Homo sapiens: one gene and its partner. The protein of the gene in region 2 interacts with the protein of the main gene of each other region in a pairwise test. Each region holds a gene or a part of one and is shown on either strand. Other genes may lie near its edges.

Region 1 (7,983 bases), on a different chromosome or scaffold from region 2:
ACGTTGCCATTTTGCCATTGGACTGTCTATTGGGACCAATTAAATCATGTGGACTTTACTTGTAAGCAATTTTGCCAATTGGCTGAACCCTTTTTTTTTTTTTTTTTTTTTTTTTTGAGACGGAGTCTGGCTCTGTCACCCAGGCTGGAGTGCAGTGGCGCAATCTCGGCTCACTGCAAGCTTCGCCTCCCGGTGAACCCTTATTTTTATTGTTAATAGAACTAATTACTTTGAACTCTGATCCCCTGTACTTCAAAGACCCATTCTCCTATCATATCACCTCTTCTCATTTTCCCATTTTGTTTCAGTAACTAACATTCTTTACTTCATCACACGTGAACATGCATTAAGGACACCAGAATGAAATACTTTTCTATTCCTTAGAGTTAAACTCCACTTTTCCATTCCTTAGGTGGCCCAAAGGAATGGGTAACCAAGCCAGATACATTTAAAAGTTATTATTTCTGGAATTCTTCTACTCAGTTTGTTTATACTTTTTTTTTTTCAGTTTGGTCTTGACACACAGACAAGTGTGTACCCAACTGTCTACTTTTTATATTTGGGTGAATACCTGGAAGTGGTATGTGGCAGAAGGCTAGGATAAGTAGTAGAAGGGAACACAAGCACACTGTTAACTTTAAGGCTAACTTACTCCTCTCCTCCATTTCACTCCAAGTAAAAAGATTTCTAGTTCTGTATTTCACTCTGTTACATTTCTTAATTACTTTTTAAGTATCCTCAATGTCCTAATTCAACACTCAGAGTGTATTCTCCTTTGTGTTATATGGTATTCTGTTTTCTCAATCATTTTCCCCTTACACATCTCCAACTTTCCACTTTTTAAATTTTATTCTCTGTGCTGTTTTGTTTTCAAACCACATGGAACCAAAGCACATACAACCATTACTCTTTACCAAAAAACAAGCTTTGTATGAGCTTCTTGAGCCTCAAACAAAAGAATTTACACTTGAACCTGATTGCTTTGAATGTGGCATTACTGTTCTGGCTTCTGCAATTCAGAGGCCCTGCTTTATGGTTTCGGCTTTCTGTTTTCCATTTATGTGAAATGTCCTACAAAAATAAATGTATTTAACAAATACCAGGAACATAGCATTACAACAACTTTCATTTCTTGGCCAATGGGCCAGACATTGCCATTTAAAGATTTGATATTGATGGGCTAGAAACTCAAAAAAAGAATTAGCAACATTCCTTCCCTTCTCTTATGGCACATACTGCAGAATTGTTCACGAGAAGAAAATCTCATGGTCAAAAGTGAAATCAGCTGTGGATCTTATCAAAGCAAAAAAAGCTGTTTGTATCTTGATGTAGCCGTGGCTTATTATTATTATTGTCATCATCATTATCATCTCAGATTTGAGTGGAAAGGAACTATGGTTTCTCCAATTTTGTGAATAATAGTTTTGTTATTGAACAGGGAACACAATGTGTGGCTAGATTATCTCCCGCAGGGCTTGCAAACACTGTATTGTCCCCAAATGTGGTAGCCACATGTTTGTTTTTCAGCTGACAGAGTCCTAAGCCAGAGAGATTTTAGAGGAAATGAAGGAGAGTGAAAATCAACTAAGCTTTTCATTAGCATGTGTGACAAAGGGTAGTGTGTTTTTCTCTTTTGGTAGTGTGTACATGTTTTAAGAAAATAAATATTGCACATCATTACTGCTCTAGTCAGTTATTTATACTCTGATAAGAATTTTAAAGTCTGTTGGAGCAAATCTGGAAAAAAGGATCAACTTCATTCAGCTCTAAACTTTTAGTGCTCACGTGTGCAAGTCACCATTATGGTATACTACACTTCGGAACATATATATGTGTTCAAGAAATGTTTGTAAAACAAATAAATATGTATTGACTTTCACTATTGGAAAATATGTAGAATAAGAAAATTGCAGTCTGCAGATTCTAACTCACACAAAATGCATCCAATGTTTTAAACTCCAACTAAAAAAATTTGATTAAATATTAATAATCATAATGAACACATTATTATCAATGAATCGAAAGTAATTGGAATAACTTGAATATTCACAAAAATCAGAGATTTTAAAACTAGGAAAAATACTTTAGAAAGAATTTGGTTAATCCTTGAATCCTAAATATAACAAAAGCCAGAGATAGTAAACAAACTGTCCAAAGAGACACAGCTTTTTTTTTTTTTATTGGAGCACTAGGATTGGAAACAGGGCATTTTATCTGGGATCCAGTGTAAACTTTCTACCCTCCCATTAGGGGTGCTGCTTTGGTCTGCCATTCTGACACTATGTCTGGCATAGCAGAGGTCTTCCCTCAGGAACCTGTGGTCAAGTAATAGCAGTTTCAGACTTCTCTAGTCTAGGGAATAAGCTGTTCATGGGCACATGCAGAGCCTTTTTCAGATGAGGGATAATTACATTCTTTCGTTTCCTGCTTCTCCTGTAATTTGGCCTGTCCATTGAAATTATAATCTATACACCTGTTTCTTCTTTTTCACTCCATCTTTCTTAGTGGGTTTGGAGGAGTTGAGTAGTTTAATTTTAAGCACTGCAGCAAGTCTGTAAAATGACAGCTAGGGATGTCTCTGACCCTTATAGGGAGAGTGAGATGTCACTGTTGACTTGCCATCAGTGGGAATTGCATTTGAATGTTCATCTTCAAGTGCAAATTATCATGTAAGTAATAGATTTGCCAACACATTGGCGAGCTTCCATGTGATATTTCCCTGTGACCAAGGATGCTGTGCAGTCATGGGCAGGGGAAATCTAACTTGACTCAAACTGAACCAAACCCATCACCCTGAACTGAGAATAATGTGAACTGATTAGGTGACAGAAGCAGCCACACCCTGCTCAGTGTCAGTCAGCCTTCTTAGGTGGAAAACAACAGAAATTGACTCTGACCATGTTCAGTCACAAAGGAATGTATGGGGGGGATGGGGGGGTGGGTCGGGGAGTAAGAAAGAAAGAAGGAAATGCTGAAGAACCAGGTCTTAGAATGTACTCACCTAAAGTAGCTTGGGTGACGGGGCAGGGGACGGATCCATGTAGCAAGACATAATGGGCACTTTTTCATTTGTTTGTTTGTTTTTTAGATGGAGTCTCACTCTGTTGCCCAAGTTGGAGTGCAGTGGTGGATCTCCGCTCACTGTAACCTCTGCCTCCTGGGCTTAAGGAATTCTCCGGGCTCAAGCAATTCTCCAGCCTCAGCCTCCAGAGTAGTTTGGGATTACAGACATGTGCCACCATGCCCAGCTAATTTTTTGTTTGTTTGTTTGTTTGTTTGTATTTTTAGTAGAGATGGGGTTTTGCCATGTTGGCCAGGCTGGTCTCGAACTCCTGACCTCGAATGATAATGATCCGCCCGCCTTGGCCTCCCAAAGTGCTAGGATTACAGGTGTGAGCCACTGCGCCAGGCCTGGGCACTTTCTTTAGTAGTTTGAGGAGCAACATTTTTGACAGTGTCCTTCTGCTCAAGATTCAGATCCCAGATAAAATTAAACCATCTAGAGAGATGGCTTGATTGGCCAAACCTGGATCTCATGACCACTTCTTGAAGTGGGTAAGTCTCATAAATGCTCAGTCCTTCCACTATGCAACTGAGTGGGGTGGGTGGGAAGCCCCTCAAAGGAAAATCCGGTTGTTCTTACTAGAAAGAAAAGGAAAATGGATGTGAGGCAGTCAAAATCAGCAGAGGTCCACCACACCACCAAAATGTGGTGATTAAATATGGAGAGACAGAGACTAACAGAGGTATGTGAATATTGAAGTATGTCTGGACAATAGCCCAATGATGAGACCAATAAAATGGTTACCAAAATCTGGTTTTGAGTAGTAGTGTTAAATCAGACCATTTAGTAACCATTTTTTGTTGCAAAGTTTCTAGCACTGCCCAAACCCTGAGTGGTATATGAATAACTCGTCCATTATGTATCTCTTTCCAGTCAGCATAATTTATCCCCCACCTATATTCTTTTCTGACCACTCCTACTTCCTTCTCTTTACCAAAATCTAAACTCTAAGGCTGTTTCTTCAGCAACTTCTTTGTTTAGATTGGAAGATAAATTAAACAGCATGCGATGTTTTACTGACTTTCAGTATTTAACAGAGGTGATTTAATTTTTTTTTAAATCCAAAGTCAAACTTCTTTATAAGATGAAGGAGAAAAATGTCTTATAAAATGCATATGTGAAGATGCCTTCTGAGTGCTTTCTCATGCAGACTTGTTCTAGTCTTTAATGAATCTTCCTTGTAGACACTGTGGAGATGAAAGATGGTTCTCCACTTCTACTCAAAGTACAAATCAGGCCGGCATTTTGAAAAAGAGACAGGTTTATTCATAGCTGCAGCGTTAGCTGGCTTTGTTCCCTGTACAATTTCACTTTTGGTTATTAAAATATTCACTGTAGGAAATAAATTTGTAACCCATTTCTCATATTACCTACACACAGAAAAACAAAATTTGATATCCTGGGGTTTATTTGCTGAGGGCGCTTCCCATAAAAGCGAGAGAGTGTGCGTTGGGAAATGTGTCTGGTTAACTCTTTTATGGATAAACTTTAGTCACAATCCTCCCCCGCCCCCCTCTCACCCCCAGCACCCTCCCAACCTCCCGACTTCCCGCCTCTCAAGGGCTGGTGACCTAATAGCATTTTTCTTCGTGCATATTTTGGCGTCGCCCCATGGCCTGGCTGCCTTCGCCTGTCTGAGTTTTTTGAAATTCCTGCATGTTCGCCCCAGATTAAGCCAGTGTGTCTCAGGATGTGTGTTCCGTTTTGTTCTTTCCCCTTAACGCTCCCTGTGCAACGTGTCTGGGGGGAGGAGGGCAGGGACGGGAGAGAGGGAGGGGCAGAGGCGAGGAGCTGTCCGCCTTGCACGTTTCCAATCGCATTACGTGAACAAATAGCTGAGGGGCGGCCGGGCCAGAACGGCTTGTGTAACTTTGCAAACGTGCCAGAAAGTTTAAAATCTCTCCTCCTTCCTTCACTCCAGACACTGCCCGCTCTCCGGGACTGCCGCGCCGCTCCCCGTTGCCTTCCAGGACTGAGAAAGGGGAAAGGGAAGGGTGCCACGTCCGAGCAGCCGCCTTGACTGGGGAAGGGTCTGAATCCCACCCTTGGCATTGCTTGGTGGAGACTGAGATACCCGTGCTCCGCTCGCCTCCTTGGTTGAAGATTTCTCCTTCCCTCACGTGATTTGAGCCCCGTTTTTATTTTCTGTGAGCCACGTCCTCCTCGAGCGGGGTCAATCTGGCAAAAGGAGTGATGCGCTTCGCCTGGACCGTGCTCCTGCTCGGGCCTTTGCAGCTCTGCGCGCTAGTGCACTGCGCCCCTCCCGCCGCCGGCCAACAGCAGCCCCCGCGCGAGCCGCCGGCGGCTCCGGGCGCCTGGCGCCAGCAGATCCAATGGGAGAACAACGGGCAGGTGTTCAGCTTGCTGAGCCTGGGCTCACAGTACCAGCCTCAGCGCCGCCGGGACCCGGGCGCCGCCGTCCCTGGTGCAGCCAACGCCTCCGCCCAGCAGCCCCGCACTCCGATCCTGCTGATCCGCGACAACCGCACCGCCGCGGCGCGAACGCGGACGGCCGGCTCATCTGGAGTCACCGCTGGCCGCCCCAGGCCCACCGCCCGTCACTGGTTCCAAGCTGGCTACTCGACATCTAGAGCCCGCGAAGCTGGCGCCTCGCGCGCGGAGAACCAGACAGCGCCGGGAGAAGTTCCTGCGCTCAGTAACCTGCGGCCGCCCAGCCGCGTGGACGGCATGGTGGGCGACGACCCTTACAACCCCTACAAGTACTCTGACGACAACCCTTATTACAACTACTACGATACTTATGAAAGGCCCAGACCTGGGGGCAGGTACCGGCCCGGATACGGCACTGGCTACTTCCAGTACGGTAAGTACCCCCAAGTCCGCTGGAAGCACCCGTGCACCTGGTCCCCAGCTATGTGGCTTCTCGACGTGGCTGCCTGGGCGCGGCGGGCCCCGGTCCTCGCAGATCCGATCCCTCCCCCACGCGCCTGCAGTGGCAGCCCTGGAATCCAGTGCAAACCGCGCGTCTGGCCCCTCCTGCTTCCTTTTCACATTGCTTTGCAGTCCCGGGCGTCCCCAGTTCTCTTGCTGTCCTCCGCTCCACTCTGCAGTCCCGGTGGGCGAAGGGTGAGGAGTAAGGGACCTAGAGGGGTAGGGAGTTGGAGCGGGGGGCGCCGGGTTGTTTCACTGCTGCGCCCGTCGCCTGCTGACGTTTAGGTCTCCCAGACCTGGTGGCCGACCCCTACTACATCCAGGCGTCCACGTACGTGCAGAAGATGTCCATGTACAACCTGAGATGCGCGGCGGAGGAAAACTGTCTGGCCAGGTACGGGCTGATATGTCTGAGGCCCCGCTCCCCGGTCTACCTTCAGGGGGCGCTCTGGTGCCTGGTTCTGACTGCTACTGCTTCGCGCAGACAAGTGTTAGGAAGTGGGACAAGAGCTGGGAAGTGGGACGTGACCTCCTGGGCATGCTGACCTGGACGGAGAGTTAATATTTTTGAAGATTTCTGTGGGTTCTGTCTCAAAGTGCAGCAGGAATCACAGAGGTGGAGGAAACCCTTATCCTGGAGACTGAAAGTCTCATGCTCTTTTTCCAAGATACTTAAACTTGGGAGTCAATTGTTCCAATCACTTTTCATAAAACAACTATACAGTAATTCAAAAAATTTATTGTAATGGAAGGGTGTGTTAATACCCCCTTAAAAGATTCGGGGCAAATTTGCCATCGTAGCCTCATTGGTAAAGACTAAGTTTTCCTCTTTTGTTTGAGACCACGATGAACTTGGTTGTTTTGGTATTACTTCAGCCAGAATAAGACCGTGAGCAAGAGCTTTGTTTTTCCACTATTCTAAAATAAAATAGTAACTCTGGGATTGGGGTTCTCTGGGTTTACTGCTGGGAAACAGCAGAGGGAGCAAAAGATGTTTTAATAAAAATTTAAAGTGTAAAATAAGGTCATCAATACCACCTGAACATATAGACACACTAAATATATTAGTAGGAACACAGTGATGTTTATTTGTACATTTCTTCCACTTTGACCCTTTATAATTGTCAGGCTAAAGGAAGTGAAGAAATCCAAGCTCATTTTCATTCCTGAGTCTTGCATCACTCACACCATTGAACTCCCTATGATGTTTTTACAGTACTGCCATTGTTTTGGGATAGTGAAGTTACAAAATTATTAATTTAAATCTGGGTATGCTCTTTTAGAGTTATTTCCTCAGTTTGCAGCTCATTAACTTTTTTAAAAGTTTTGTTAAGTTTGAAGTTTGTAATAAACATCTATGAATTATTTTTTTTATTGGGGGATTATTTCCACTTCAGTTTCACTCATTCATATGATCAAACTTGAATTGATTCTAAAGTTTACTTCTGACATTTAGATTTTTAATGCTTATTATGTTTTTACTGTTAAGATCTGTGGATTTCCATAGGTGTTATTCATTCACTTATTCACCAAATATTCATTGAGCTCTGACTACTCCAAGACGGTTCTAGGAGCTTTGGATTCAGCAATGAACAAAAAGAAACAAAATGCCTTAGACTCTTGGAACTGATAGTCTAGTTGGGAAAGGAGGATTGTCACTACTATATAATGGATGTTTTATTTGTAGTTTTGTCTTTAGTTAATATTCCATGAATATAATAATTTTTCTTTTTTCAAAATCACAGTACAGCATACAGGGCAGATGTCAGAGATTATGATCACAGGGTGCTGCTCAGATTTCCCCAAAGAGTGAAAAACCAAGGGACATCAGATTTCTTACCCAGCCGACCAAGATATTCCTGGGAATGGCACAGTTGTCATCAGTAAGTAAATGGGCCTCCTGGGTACTTTTGGGTTGCTTTTCATTTCTCAGGTGATTTTTGATATCACAAATGCAAGTCTTATTTCTTACCTGAAGGGAGAAAATTGCTATTACTTATATTTAGAATTTTTCTCTATGTAATTTC
Region 2 (7,080 bases):
ACAGTGATAATTCCAGTAAAATAAACTGTAGGCCTCTAGTTGTTTTAGAATTTTAAAACTGTAAATGGACTCAGAGAATCAGTTTCTTATTAGACGTCATGAGAGTATATTTTTTTCATTATGCTTTAAGAGGGAATTTGTAACTTGCTCAGGTAACATTCAAGTTTTCTGGTTTGTGTTTGTCCCTACAATTAAACACACTGAACTAACAGGAAAAGGTTACATACATTTAGGAACAATTGCACTTTTAAAGGGAGAGAATGCATAGTTGCTCACATATCTCAGTGTCAGTCACCTAACATGGATCAGTGCTTTATTTGAGATTACAAAACTAGAAAATGACGGAGTCAAGGCTAGGACCAATATTCTGTTCAGTCTTAGATAATTATAGAATACACATTAAAATCAGATATTTGAATTTTCTTAATTTTGTAACTATTTGTCATTGAAAGGAGATACTAAAAAAATTATATATCGTCCTAGAAAGTACATGAACTAATAATGCATTTCTAAAGGTGAAAAAAGAATAGGTATTTTTCTGTTTAATATTCAATTTTATAGAGAGTAGTACGTTAATTTTTTTAAACCCCAGAAGCTCAGGATCTTATCATTTTAAAAGAAATTATCACCAGTTCTGTGTGAGTAAATAAAGTATTATAACACTTTGTGTTTTTCATCCATGATACCTTGTATTTACTTACCTGAGCTTTTTTTCTAGGGAAAGAAAAATGCTCAGGTAATAACAGAGCCTTGAAAAATTTGGATTTTCAAAACTACCTATTTATGTATAGGCCTTTAGATCATCTGATGTTGAATACTCTTTAAGTGATCTAAAGGCCTACATATAAAAAGGTATTTTTATTAAATTCTGGAATTAAACATTTCAGCATTACAAGAAAAGAAAGCAAATCCACTGGAACAATTCTGGGAAAGAAGGAAAGACTGTGATTAAATGCCTCTTAACTACTTCAGATTCCTGGATTGATGTCTTATCTACAGGCTTCTTTTTAAAAATCAAGAATGATTGGCTGTGAGTTTACCAGGATTATAGTTGAGGCTAAAGGACAGCTCCTCAGGAAAGCCCCTGTTCTACATCTACGGTCACATGCTGGACCTTGAGTTGTCACTCAGAGAAAAGAGTGCCATCTACCGAAACTCCACAGTTTCCATTGTGAATGGCTTCTTTGGTGCAGAGTTCCAAAAATTATGTAGCCCAGCTCTTTAATTTTGTAACATCTAATGATATCACCGCCTTGAAGTGATTAAAGTAGATTGCTTAAAGAATTAAAGCTTTAAAGATGAAAGATGTTATTGCTTTTGCTGGACATGAGGAACAGTTGTAAAGTTTCCAGGTCTACAATAACTTTCTGGAACCCTCTCAGTGAACTGTTTCTTGTAAAAGTTTTCCCTAAGATAAAAGCTCAATCCCATTGTTTCCACACTCAAAAAAAAAAAAAAAAAAAAGATCATATAGTGTAAAAAAAAACTCTCCAGACTTTTCAAAGGGGAAACTTTGCCTGTTTCATGTCAAGATGACAACGGAAAAAATGAGATAGCTATTCTTACATAAATCATTTGTGAACTGCAGTTGGGGGAGTTACATTAACCACCAGAGTTTCAGTCTGTGTCTAATGAAAACACAGCAGAAGTGGATTCCTTTCAGATTAACTAATAAAACCCTTGTTTTTTTCCATGACTGAGGTCAAGCACTGCTGTTTAAAATGTAGTCTTAATGAACAAAATGAAACGTTGAAAGAGGACGAGTCAAAATGCCCAAAAGATGTAAACATCAAAGAGAAAAGATCCAGAAATTATTAAAAGTTAAACTTCCCTTGAATTCTAGTATTAAGAAAGTACTGCTTCAGTAAAATGGCATATATTTTTCTGAAACTGTTTTTCTATAGTATTTTGTGTGGAGGATGACAGAGACTGCATTTCTCAAGTAAATTAAAATCACAGAAATACTCTTTGGAGTTGCATAGCATGTTCACAACGTTCCAGTTTCATTCAGTGAAAACTTCTGATGAACTTAGATGTATATTAACATGAATCATTTAGTAACTATATTTTCTGAAAAACAGTGTGTTAATGAGACATCTTAAACATATTTTTGCATTGGATGCAGAAGTCTTTTCTGTCTGGTACTATTGTTGTTAGAACCCTACTTTTTTGTATATAGCAAAATGTATGCAGGGTTTCTGAGTCACACATTTATTCTGTTGGTGGTCTGGATGTCATCAGGGTAGCTTTAGAGATATAACCCTTCTTCATAAGGTCAAGAGAAAATAAACAGGAGAATTTAACTCCAGATGGCATCTTCCTGTTTTGAGGCCAGATAGAAAAATATTTTGCAAAGAACTGTTGTCCTTCAAAATATACCTATCTAGATTCAGATTTTAACCTTGCAGGGATAAAAAATCATATGGGACAGAGCTTTGGAGTTGGCTTCTTTAATCGTACTCAGTTTTGAAATAGCAGAAAGAAAATAGAATGCAGTAATTAAGAGTATCAAATTTAGAGAAAGCCTTCTTACACTCAGATCTTCTTTTTCACCCTGACTGTGTAACCTTGGGAAAATTACTTAATGTTTCTGCAGTTAAGATTCCTCATCTGTAAAATTAGGATTATGACAGCTGTAAGCTCATAAGGCCTTTGGGAGTATGAAGCAAAATAGATATTCAAACTACTCAGAGCAGTCCCTACAAGATAGGAGGTACTATAGCACTAGTTTTACTAACGCTGGCAAATAAAATTACTCTAAGGAAGAAATTAAAGTACTTAGTAACTTAGTGATAAGGATGGTGAAATGTAAAATTTTATTTATAAGACTATACAATTTAAAGTTGTTTGCCAAATGTAATAAGACAAGTAGAATATATTCTCTTCAATGTTTTTATAATTTGACACTAAGAAGATTTTATTATATATGCAATTGCTGGTGGTTAGATATATGATACTTAAAATTTTCTAATTATCTAATTATTTTTATTTTTAACAGGATAAAATATTAATCAACTTAAAGGACATTTCTAAGGAGATTGAATTCTAAAAGATTAATCTTTTAGACAATTCTAAAAGATTAATCTTTTAGACAATTCTAAAAGATTAATCTTTTAGACAATTCTAAAAGATTAATCTTTTAGACAATTCTAAAAGATTAATTGAATTCTAAAAGATTAATCAACTTAAAGGACATTTCTAAGGAGATTGAAAAAGCATATATCTATAAAATATGAAACAAGAAAATATCTACAAATGATAATTTATCAACTTTTTTTCCTGGAGGTAGCAAGAATAAATAAAATCTTATTTTCTATGCAAAACAGTGCTTTTAAATTAAAATTATTCACCTAGAATGTCTACAGATACTTTCTTCAGAGTCCTTTTTGTTAAGTAATCTAACATATTTTAAGATACTCTGATAAATACATAAGCAGCAGAAAAAATATTTTATTAAAATTTATGTTTTCCAAACAATATCATTTAAAAGGCAAACCAAACATTATTTCAATTGGAAACTATATGAATGCCAAATACCCACATGTACAAAATATTCAGCTTTCTAAAGTAATGAAAATAATTATGATAATTTATATATCATATCTGTGATTCTTAGATTTTCAGATTATACAACATCTTTTCCCAGATAAGGATTTAGTAAGAAGAGAAAAGGAAAAAACATTCACTTTTCATTCAAGCCAAATTAATTAATTTAATTAGGTGCTTTAGGGAATAATATTATTGCTCCAAAAATAGTATTAAGACAAACATAACATTCATTTTTTGTCCAAACAATATGATTTCTTCAAGTCAGCATGATTTAACATGAAGAATGGAAACAAAAAAATCACAAAATAGTAAGCTTTATGCACATCTAAAAATATAAAATTATGTTATTTGGCTTTATTTTTCTCTAAAATTCCAAAATAGAAAACTAGGAAAGAAGCAGCTAAGAGTGGTTTAAGACATGTGTTAGCTTCAATATGTTTTATATTATAGATCCCAGCAAGGAGATGATTGAGTTTAATACATTGCTTGTGTGATCACAAGTAAATTTCTTTCAGAATTGTACTTCGTAGTAAGGAACAGAAACACCAAATGACATGGGAGATGGAATTTAAAATTAATTATAAATTGGAACAGAGAGATTTAGTTTAAACAACTAAAATAATGGAAATAATTGGAAAGTCCATTACTTTTCAATAGTAGAATGAAATTATTTGCCTTTTATTTAATATTTTTGGAAAAAATTAACTTATTTTTTTAACCGAAGCTACTCTGAATGCAGATATCTAAGAAATGAAGAGAATAATATGAGATGACTTACTTCTAAATCCCATTTTCTATTCTATTTCTAAATGTTGCAAATGGCTAACTAGAGCATTTTTATTCCTCTAGAAACAAAACATTCTTTTCCTTGACTTTGCCATGATTTTCGCACATATTACTAGGTATTAAATGAAGGTCCATGAAACATCAATCTAAGAGCTTTAACTTTCAGTAGAATATATTGCTAACTATATTTTGTCATGCATGGAATAATAAAGGAAGCTATACAAAACTATTTTTTTCAGCAAAGGTAACTAAGGTAGAAAAACAGAGAAAGGGCTAATTTTCAGCCACAAGTTTTTACAGGAACTGACTTCTCAGGAGAGCCAAATTTATTTCAAGTGGATGTGAAATAAGTTATGGCAATAAATAAAGTTGCATTAATTCTTATTTTTTAAACATTCCAACTCTCTTTTTTTTACTTAAAACAATATGACTTTCTAAAGTAAAACAAAACATACATGCACCATGTTGACTGTCATGTGCAGGTGAGAAGAGAAAAATATTTTAAGAATATGATAATTTTTAAAATTGCACTAAAATAATCTTTATATTGAGGCCTCCGTGTTTTAAAAAGTACTATAATATGTTTCTAATAAAATTTAGAAACAATAAGCTAAATAACAACGTTAATACTTATAACATTGCATTTGACCCAATTTTAACAAACTCATTTACAATTTTAATAAGTCAATATTGTGCTCATTTATTTAATAATTAGCAGAACAAATGGAAAGTACTGTATTTCTAATGATGTGAGGACACCCTTAATGAGACATAAACATAGGAGGATGAATACACAGGAGGGAAAAGTATTTATGTTAATTTCTAGGCAGATCAAGAACATATAGAAGATACTTAAAATAGGAAATGTTTGAGCCTAGCTTTAACTATTATCTTCATTTGTCTTTAATATGCCTTTAGTATTCAATGGCTGTTTTTCATAATCCACGTGCTGTATTAAGTGTGAAAAGATATGCCTGATCCAGAGGCAATGAGCTAAAAGAATCATCTGTACAATCTAACAATGCTTTTGAGGATGGATCTGGAGGGCTTAAAATACACATTATTAATGGGAAAATCTTGGGCTGAAACTAATCTGTAGGAATATTTCATATAAAGTTGATTTGGAGAAAATTTTTAAGTGGTTCATTTTGAGAAAAGGAACCAATGTAATTACAGTGTTCCATGTAATTTTACTGCACAATCTTCCAAACCCAAATTTTCGGACCTTTTCTGCAGACTGGTGAACTTAGTACTTAAATATGAAACGCCAGTTCTGTCTAGAGAACAAAATGAGTTTAATGCATAGACTCACCTGTTATTACTCTTCACACCAATGTGTAAATGACTGTTTGCTCTTCTATTAAATATATTTTCCGTAACACCATTCAAATAGGCCTACTTCATTTCCACTGAGATAAGCATTTTGGTATTCAGCTTTTATATTCACTAAGAATTAAGAAATGCTGTTTTAAAAGCTTAGGAAATGTATATAGAAAATATATCCCATGTTCTCATATATGTGTTTCAGACATAGGGGAGGAATTAGAATAAATTTTCTAAATAAACAAATTATTTGCCTACTTAAAATTGCAATTAAAAAATGAAGCTTTCCTTCGTTAGCTGTAAACTACATTGAGAAATTGTAACATAAAAAAGAATGGATTTTTAAAACTTCTTGAGTAGATCAAGTGTCTTGTACAATATCATTAAATTTGTATCAGAACACATAAATGGAAATGAGGTGGGGAAGCAATTGCAGTACTTTCTAGAGTCTAGGTTTTGAAATTCTTTTTGGTGAACATTTACTAAATCAGCTAAACATTTCAACTCATTTAAACACAAACCTAAATTATTATTACCCTAGACAGAGAGATGATATAGCAACGGGACCTCGAAAAGGTGATCTTTTGTGGCTGCATGTAGTGCCCAGATGGAAAAATCTTAGGACCACTAAAAGGCCTCTTGACCACTAGGCGGCAAAAACTAATTTTGAACTACTTGCCTACTCGGTAGCAGGCCTCTTTCAATAGACATTTTAAATATCTTGGCTTTGAGAAAATAAAAATTTCACCATCTCACAAAAATATAAATTACTGAACAGTACATCATTTGTTGTTTGCAAAAATTTTTGCAGATGCTTAGAAACTTATTATTTATTTACTCAATTACTGGCAAACTATCATACTAATTGTCAAGAACTAAAGTTGTATTTAACCACAATACACAGCTAATGCCTTAAGAATTGAGACCAGGTTTTGTTTTGGCAATTCCTAAGCTGATTCATAGTTAATAGCTGCTGAAATTTCAGTACCTTGTATATAATTATGAAGCAAGTCTAAAATTTTGGTTGAAGCAATTTTTTTTACCATTTTAAGCCACAAATACAGATGGTTATGATTCATATTTTCCCTATTATTTTTACTTATTCCTTGCCAATGTTTATTTTAAAAACATCTTTTTCTTTTCTTTTTGGTGATTTGGAAATGTCTTTACATCCATATGGGATATACAATATATTATGTCATATCATGTTGAGCTACTAATGCCAAATAGAGCTAACAGTGACATTCAATACACATAATAAGTTCTGTTAAAACTTTCCCAGGAAAATCTGGTAGAGTTTTATGCTGCCAAGATTAGCTCAGTTTTCCCCTGAATTTCTCAACTAGGTTGATAAAATCCAGAAAGTCTTCAGAGTTAGTGACAAAATCATCTCTTTAGTTTAATGCTCCCATCTGCTGTTAA

What was found. The genes of interacting proteins can lie anywhere in the genome.
Region 1: the proteins of COL3A1 (region 2) and LOX interact in a two-hybrid assay, tested with the Homo sapiens proteins (one study listed by IntAct).

What each region holds. Positions count from the first base shown.
Region 1 is NC_000005.10:122,075,260-122,083,242, reverse strand, and holds the start of LOX (protein-lysine 6-oxidase isoform 1 preproprotein), read left to right. Parts: upstream 1-4,983; 5' UTR 4,984-5,257; coding exon 5,258-5,888; exon of another isoform or gene 5,889-6,241; coding exon 6,242-6,350; exon of another isoform or gene 6,351-7,701; coding exon 7,702-7,839; exon of another isoform or gene 7,840-7,917; coding exon of another isoform or gene 7,918-7,928; intron 7,929-7,983. UniProt on the Homo sapiens protein: Responsible for the post-translational oxidative deamination of peptidyl lysine residues in precursors to fibrous collagen and elastin. Regulator of Ras expression. May play a role in tumor suppression. Plays a role in the aortic wall architecture.
Region 2 is NC_000002.12:188,977,313-188,984,392, forward strand, and holds part of COL3A1 (collagen alpha-1(III) chain preproprotein), read left to right. Parts: intron 1-779; exon of another isoform or gene 780-849; intron 850-7,080. UniProt on the Homo sapiens protein: Collagen type III occurs in most soft connective tissues along with type I collagen. Involved in regulation of cortical development.